2 linked regions of the Homo sapiens genome follow. The protein of the gene in region 1 purifies or fractionates together with the protein of each later gene. This does not show direct contact. Each region holds a gene or a part of one and is shown on either strand. Other genes may lie near its edges.

What was found.
Region 2: the proteins of TRDN (region 1) and EMC2 purify together in Homo sapiens (co-immunoprecipitation; 3 studies listed by BioGRID and IntAct, with this or other methods). This does not show direct contact.

The regions. Positions count from the first base shown.
Region 1 is NC_000006.12:123,630,304-123,634,059, forward strand, and holds part of TRDN (triadin), read right to left. Parts: intron 1-3,756. UniProt on the Homo sapiens protein: Contributes to the regulation of lumenal Ca2+ release via the sarcoplasmic reticulum calcium release channels RYR1 and RYR2, a key step in triggering skeletal and heart muscle contraction.
Region 2 is NC_000008.11:108,446,468-108,450,223, forward strand, and holds part of EMC2 (ER membrane protein complex subunit 2), read left to right. Parts: intron 1-3,355; coding exon 3,356-3,469; intron 3,470-3,756. UniProt on the Homo sapiens protein: Part of the endoplasmic reticulum membrane protein complex (EMC) that enables the energy-independent insertion into endoplasmic reticulum membranes of newly synthesized membrane proteins.

The DNA.
Region 1 (3,756 bases):
TATAAAACCAAAAGCTTTACTGGAAAATCTTAACCATTTTCTTTTCAAATTGATATATTCAACACAAAGGTCAATGTAGATGATTTTAAAATTGCTTAGTTGCACTGTTTTATGTTTCTCTCATATTAAATATTGTTAACTGATTAAAAATTAATGCCAACAGTATTGGAGGCCTTAAGTCTCTATGGATTCCTAAGCCTTTAGTATAATAACTGAATAGCCTCAATTCATTTTTGCATTGTAAAAGTAGCATGAATTTTAAATTACAGTCATAATGATAACCAAAAATAAATAGGAAAAAAAATAAGAAACATTTAAGCTCATAAACGGAACATTTTCATGGATACTATGTGCTTATGGGGTGGGGAGAAAAATAGTTCCTATTACAAATAATAATAAAAACTACAAGAAAAAGCTTCTTAACGGAACCTAACAAGGGCTGACACTACACAGCTATATTTTCTGCTCATTGTCACTGCAAATTTTGTATCATGGATGATTTGAACAATTTAAAAAACATAAACTTAATTTGCCAAATAGCATGATCTTGTAAAATTTTTAAAAATTCCTCTGGCCATATTATTTTTAATTAACCAAGTTCATGACCCTTCTTTTGAGGCCCCATCCTCCCCAGACCAAGAGTGGTTGAGTAGTGGAGATAGTGCCTGAACCCCAATTTCTGACTTAAGTAAAACTCCATGCACTTACTACTCTATCACACTCTCTTTTCTTAATGCTTCTTTCTCCCAGCTCTGCACTATATTTTCTCTCTGATTTTCAGTGAACTATACTCTCCTGGTTTTCACAATCTGCTTTTTTTTTTTTTTCTATTTTCCTAAAGTGAACTTGAGCAGTAAAGAATAACAAGAAGTTTCAGAGTCAGACTAATCAGGTTTATGTGATACCTGCCTTTCACAGTTTTTGTGATATTTCAAAGAGATAGTCATACAAAAGCTTCATACTTAATACCCTGTCAATAAATGCAATGTTCCAAGCCATAGCACTTTTTAGAACTATTTTTTCTTGCATCATGTTGACTTCTTAGGCTTTCAAATTGTTCTCAGGTTTTCCCATGACCTATCTCAAAAACAAACTATTTCTAATTAATGTCTCTAATTAATGTTACCAATAATATGAAACTAACCTCCAGATTCCCATATTATAATAGATATTAAAAATGATTACTTCCTTGTCTGCTTTTACAAACATAAGTATATTTCCAGACTACTCTGCTTAATATGAGCATATTTGGTTTTCATTTCAGTAACAACAGACACTGTTCAATTTAGAGAGTAATTTGCACTTACGAATAAATTTGGTGACCAGAGAATTCACTGACCCATATATGTTATGAAAATTAAATTCTTATTAAAAGATTTACTCTACTAACAACATCAACTCTGTTTTTTTTCTTAACTCTTTATTGTGAAGAAGCTTAAATAATCCCAAAAGTAGACAATATTATAATGAAACTTAATGTACCCATTATCAGCCTCAACATAATCAACTAATGGCCAATCCTACCCCACCCACACCCCAACTACTTTCTTCTTGGGCATATTATTTAGAAGCAAATTTCAAATATCACATCACCTCCTTCATAAATATTTGAATGTGTATCTCCAAATAATAAGTAATTTTAAAAGACAACCACAATACGGTTATCCCACTAAAAATATAATTATTCATTAAGGTTATCTAACATCCAGAGTATATTAAATTTTCACTTGTTTCATCAGAATTTTTTAAGGTTGTTTGTTTGAATCATGATCCAACCATTCCATACATTGTGATGGGTTGCTAACTTTTTACATTTCTTTTCATCTGTTCTCCAGATTTTCTTGTTCTTGTTCCCAGGAACTTATTTGAAGTAACTGGGTTGTTTGTACTGTAGAGGTTCCCAGAGCCTACTGCCTACTATGGTGTAGATTTTGGCATATTCCTCATCCCTCTATTTCTTAAAAATTGGAGGCTGTGTATTTCCTTTTCCTTCCCTCCTTTCTTGCTTTCTCTTTTCTTTCTTTCTAGTCAGAAGAGTCAGTTCTAGCTATCATTTTAATGGTTGGTTGGGTTTTGCCTTGTATTTTGCCAATAGTGTGCCTTTTTTGTGACTTCCAGACTTTTATCCATGGGTCTGTGCATTGCCCTCAAGTGCTACATAATGAAAAAATCCAGTCTTCTACTTAAACAAACCATGCACAAATCTTTTCATTTAACTGTGCCTTTCACCATCGTGGTACTCCTCTTTTGAATAGGCTAGCTTTCTAATGTCAGTTTTAAAATGTACTTATAAGACTAAAAATAATATATGTGGTATGTTGCTTTATCAGGAAAATCAAGAACATCTCCTGGAAGTGACCAGGGCTTGAAACTAGTGCTACATCCCTTTGTACCCCCAGCTCATCCCCGCTTAAGCCAGGGCAGCTGCCCTTTGCTTTGATGAGGTAAATGCAGAAACATAGGTTGGATCGCCTCATAATTTCACCATCTGTCATGCTAGATGATATAACTTGTTTGCCTAGTTGTTAAGTAGTCTGGCTGTGAATTCTTGATTTTTTTTTTTTCTTGAGAGCAATAGTGAGTAATCTTGTGCTGCAGACTCTATGGGAGTAATGCAGTGTGTAGAATATAAATGACCATTTTTGCTCTAAATTTTGAATATCAAATCTTCTCATAGGTTTGATTGTTACAGAAGCAGTGAAACGTGATTCGGCTAATGGTAAGGAAAGAATTCCACACATAGTGCAATAATTCTTCTCCTGAAGCCTGAGGTTATGTAATAGTTTATAAGTTGAGAGTTGGATATAAGCTCTTCTAACATTTTAAATAAAAAGCTTTCTTGAACTAAGCGTTCTAGTAAATACTAAGTTAATTATATATGGGATTCCCAGCAACTTGGATACATTACATTGCAAGGAAGATAAAGGACTGTTTATAGCCCTAAACCTGTGTGCTGTTTGAGTGTAATCCAGTCTGGGCCTGATTCAACCTACCTAAATGTAACATGGTCCTAGTGTAGGCTCCAATAACAACCTAATTGACCAACCTAACAGTCTCACACAGTAAGAAGACATATCCAATATGACTCTGTGGTCAGGCATGGGTATGAATCCTAGCTATATCACATACAGTTGTGTGAATTCTAGCACATTCTTTAAACTCTCTCAACTTCAGCTTCCTATTCTCTAAACAGCAATAATATTAGCCTTTATTCTCATTTGGTGGCCCTGAAGATTAAATGAATATTTATCAAGCTTAATACAGTGCTTGACATCTTATGTCTTCAGAATAAATATGTTATCATTGCTGTTATAATTATCTTTATTAATTTATTTTGCCAGAATCAAAGGTGTTATTACCCTAAAATCCTTTGGAGTTCAACTTTGTCCTATTTCTAATTTATCTATTACTCTGTACCTGAAACACAATTCTGTATTTAGCATTATTTCCTTTCTTCCACTGGATGAAGTAAGCCAGCTTGGAACCTGCAGTGGAAATTGATGTGAGCAACTAGGTGAGGTTATAGGCACGACATGCACTGTAGTTGAATAAGCACTGGGATGAGCCATGGGAGGCATGAAATTTATCCTCAGATCTCTCCTAATTTCCCATGACCATGAGACAGTCATATAATCTGTATGAGCCTTGTCTTCCCAAAACTTGAGATGAGAACAGTTAACTAGAGCTTTCTAAGGTAATGAGTTATCTCTTATATTCTTAAGTGCCACAAACTGTTTTGTGTGTGTGCGTGATAAA
Region 2 (3,756 bases), on another chromosome or scaffold:
GAAATAGAGTAGAAGATGTAAATCTTCGAAATACTTCGAAATACTTCAAAACAATCCACAGGACTTAGATATACAAAACTCCCACAGTGGGAGTCAGAAACAGCACTAAAAAATGGAATGTCAGGTAGTATTAACAGAAGGTGGAATTAACAGAAATGTGAACATTGGGAAGGGAGGCCATATTTTTAGGAAATGAAGATGACTTGATTTTCGGATGCTGTGATTTTGAGGTAATGAGCTATCAAAGGTGAAAACATGTTTTCTTCAAGATGGTTTTATTTTTACAAATAATTTTTTTAGATAAATGTATTTAAGGCATTTCTAAAAGTAGTATGTGGTTAATAGTGCTACAAATGTATTTATTACAGCAGCACTCAAGAGTGTGGCAGGGTCAGCTATGTAAGGTGTATAGCTTAAGGTGTTTATAGGTAAAATGTTGCTTGTTTTGTAAGTTATATTTTCATACACAGTGTTTCTTGTTTTGTGTTCAGCTATTATATTTTAATATGTGACTGTGTGTCAGACTGCCGTTCTTAGAAGTTATGCTTTAAAAAAAGTTCTCTTTCCTATGAGTGTTTTTTCACAATAAGAAACACCTTTTACAAATTAACTCATACTCAATTAAGTATACCTATACATGAATCTTTGAGTGTATGTATAAACTGAAACCAAAGTTGCATTTACAAAGGATTCTAATGAGTATTGCTTCCATTCTGTTCATTTTGTTTCATTCTCCCCCACTGCCCCCCCACCCCCAACAGATGCTGGAAGAAATCCACTGAACCGATTTTATACCCTATTAATGGATTGTAATACACAGTTTGAAAAATACGTCTTCTGGAGCTCTGTGTGCATTAAAATAAATTAACCCTTTCCTTTTTCAAATCAGGTTGCCTTTTCTTTTAGAATAGCTGTTCCCAACAGCCTGCAGCCAATCTGACTAGATACTTTTATGGGACCATGAATAATTTAAAATTTATTATCCTGTAATTATCAACCTTTTAAAAGAATATGCTGGTTTATGTAAATGAATCTGTAAGTGGTATTTCCGAATATATAAAAAAATGAAGTGGAAAAGATACAGGATTGGAGGAAGTAGTTTTGGACTAAAGAAATCATAATTAAGTAGCAGGCATATTTTTCCATCTTTCAGAGGCCACCTCACTGCAGTGACATCTCATGCAAGTTGTCATGGAAGGAATAAACAGAACAATCATAGCGACTCTCTTAACCTTTGACCTTTAGCTCATCTCACAGGATTGCACAGTAGTTAATAAAATGTACAAGCAAGCAGTGAGAAGCTTACTTACATAGTATGTAATAAAATGACCTTGGCTTTGAGGAGCGAGCTTTTTGCAGGAAGGTGAAAGGGTAAAATGAAAGTTTTAAGCCACCTTTGAGGAAAGAGTGAGGGAAGAGCCTTTATTTCTTGTGAGAGGCTGAAACAGTTACCAGATTTTTTTAAAAAATAAAAGTAACTAGAATTTTTGTAGGGCTTCACATTTTATAAAATGCTTTACACGAATTTTCTAGTGTTTGGTGTCCTAAACTCAAGGGCCAAGCAGATGAAAATACATGTAGTTGGGTGAAAGACAATAGTGGTGCCTGTGAAGAACTGGTAAGTGTATACCCTTATCTAAGGGTAATCAAAATCAACTTAAAAACAAAAATATCCAAACTATTGTACGAACCAAGCAACTTTATATATATTTTATGTAATCTTAACTGCTCATCCCTGAGCTAAAGGTAATATTATCTCTATTCATTGGTATTGGAAACTAAGTACAGATTCGGTAAGTTATGTAAGGTCATGTAAAAGATGGAGTTTAGATTCAAACCAAGTGTATCAAGTCCATGTTCTTTCCAGTATACTATACGTCCTCTATGACTGGTGATATGGTTTGGCTCTGTGTCCCCACCCAAATCTCATCTTGTAGCACCCATAATTCCCATGTGTTGAGGAGGAGACCCACTGTGAGATGATTGAATCATGGGGACAGGTCTTTCCCATGCTGTTCTCATTATAGTGAATGGGTCTCACAAGATCTCATGGTTTTAGAAACAGGAGTTTCTCTACACAAGCTCTCTTTCTTTGCCTGCTGCCATCCACGTAGGATATGACTTTTTCCTTCTTGTCTTCTGCCATCATTGTGAGGCCTCCCCAGCCACGTGGAACTGCAAGTCCAGTTAAACCTCTTTCTTTTGTAAATTGCCCAGTCTCGGGTACGTCTTTATCAGCAGTGGGAAAACGGACTAATACAACCAGTTTCTTTTCTTTGAACTGTTTACTCCTTTCCAGTTTATCTTCTGGGGCTTTTTGTTTTGGTTTCAAATTTATTTATTTTTAAAATTGACATATAAAATTTAAAATTCTAGTGGTTTCTTTTTTTTTGCACCAGAATGATTTTCCTGTCAGACAGCCATGATTGTGTTGCTTTTCTTTTGCTCAGCATTTTTAAGTTGTTCTTCTGTACCTTTAAAAACAAACTTTAAAGTTCTCTAGTATGAAATAAAAGTCTTCCAAGAAACTCACTCTTCTTACTTCTTATACACTCATTTCCTGATCCTAGTGTGTTTATTTAATTCCCAGCTACCAGTAGTTCTTTCTGTATAGGATAACTTACTTTGTTATATGCCTGTTGAACTCCTTTTTCAACCTTTAAGAGACAGGGGTCTTGCTCTGTTGCTCAGACTGGAGTGCAGTGGTGCAATCACAGGTCACTGCAGCATCAACCTCCAGGCTCAAGTGATCCTCTCACGTCAGTCTCCTGAGTAGCTGGGACCACAGGCGGGTGCCACCATGCTGCCTTTTTTTTTTTTTTTTGAGACAAAGTCTTGCTTTGTCACTCAAGCTGGAGTGCAGTGGCACGATCTCGGCTCACGCAATCTCTGCCTCCTGGGTTCAAGCGATTCTCCTGCCTCAGCCTCCTGAGTAGCTGGGATTACAGGTGTGTGCCACCATAGTTGGCTAATTTTTGTATATTTAGTAGAGACAAGGTTTCGCCACGTTGGCCAGGCTGGTCTTGAACTCCTGGATCAAGTGATTGTCCTACCTTGGGCTCCCAAAGTCCTGGCATTACTGATGTAAGCCACCGTGCCTGGCCCATTCATCACTTCTAAAGATAGTCATAATACCAGTTGTAATGCTGTTTCAGTCTTCTAAAGGATCTGTTGCCCTTGTTCAATTAATTTTCTACTTTATCAAATTTGAGATACCACAGACTTCTACATGATTGTGAGTTTATTTTCCTTACCTAAAAAGCTGATTTTGTCTTGTCAGGTTTTTGACATCTATCGGATGTGTATGTGTGTGTCTGGGTACATATACACTTAAATGTCATGTTATTTTTTTCAGAAATGAGAGATAAAATGAGAAAATGGAGAGAAGAAAACTCAAGAAATAGTGAGCAAATTGTGGAAGTTGGAGAAGAATTAATTAATGAATATGCTTCTAAGCTGGGAGATGATAGTAAGTTCTTTTATTACATTCAGGCTCAGTACATGCCTCATTCATGGGCCTTTTTTTTTTTTTAACTGTTCTTTCATTCATGATTTTTCTACTTGTCATATTAATTTTCTTTGTGACTTTTTGTCCCAAGAATTTTAATGATAGTTTATTTTGAGAAGGATTTATAATTGCTTGGTAGTAGTAAGCTATCAAATAGGCATTTTGTTTTAAAGCTCACAGGGCTGCCAAATGTCTGGCCAAAATGTATTGTGTATGGACTCTTTTAGAACAGTAAAACTATTAAATAA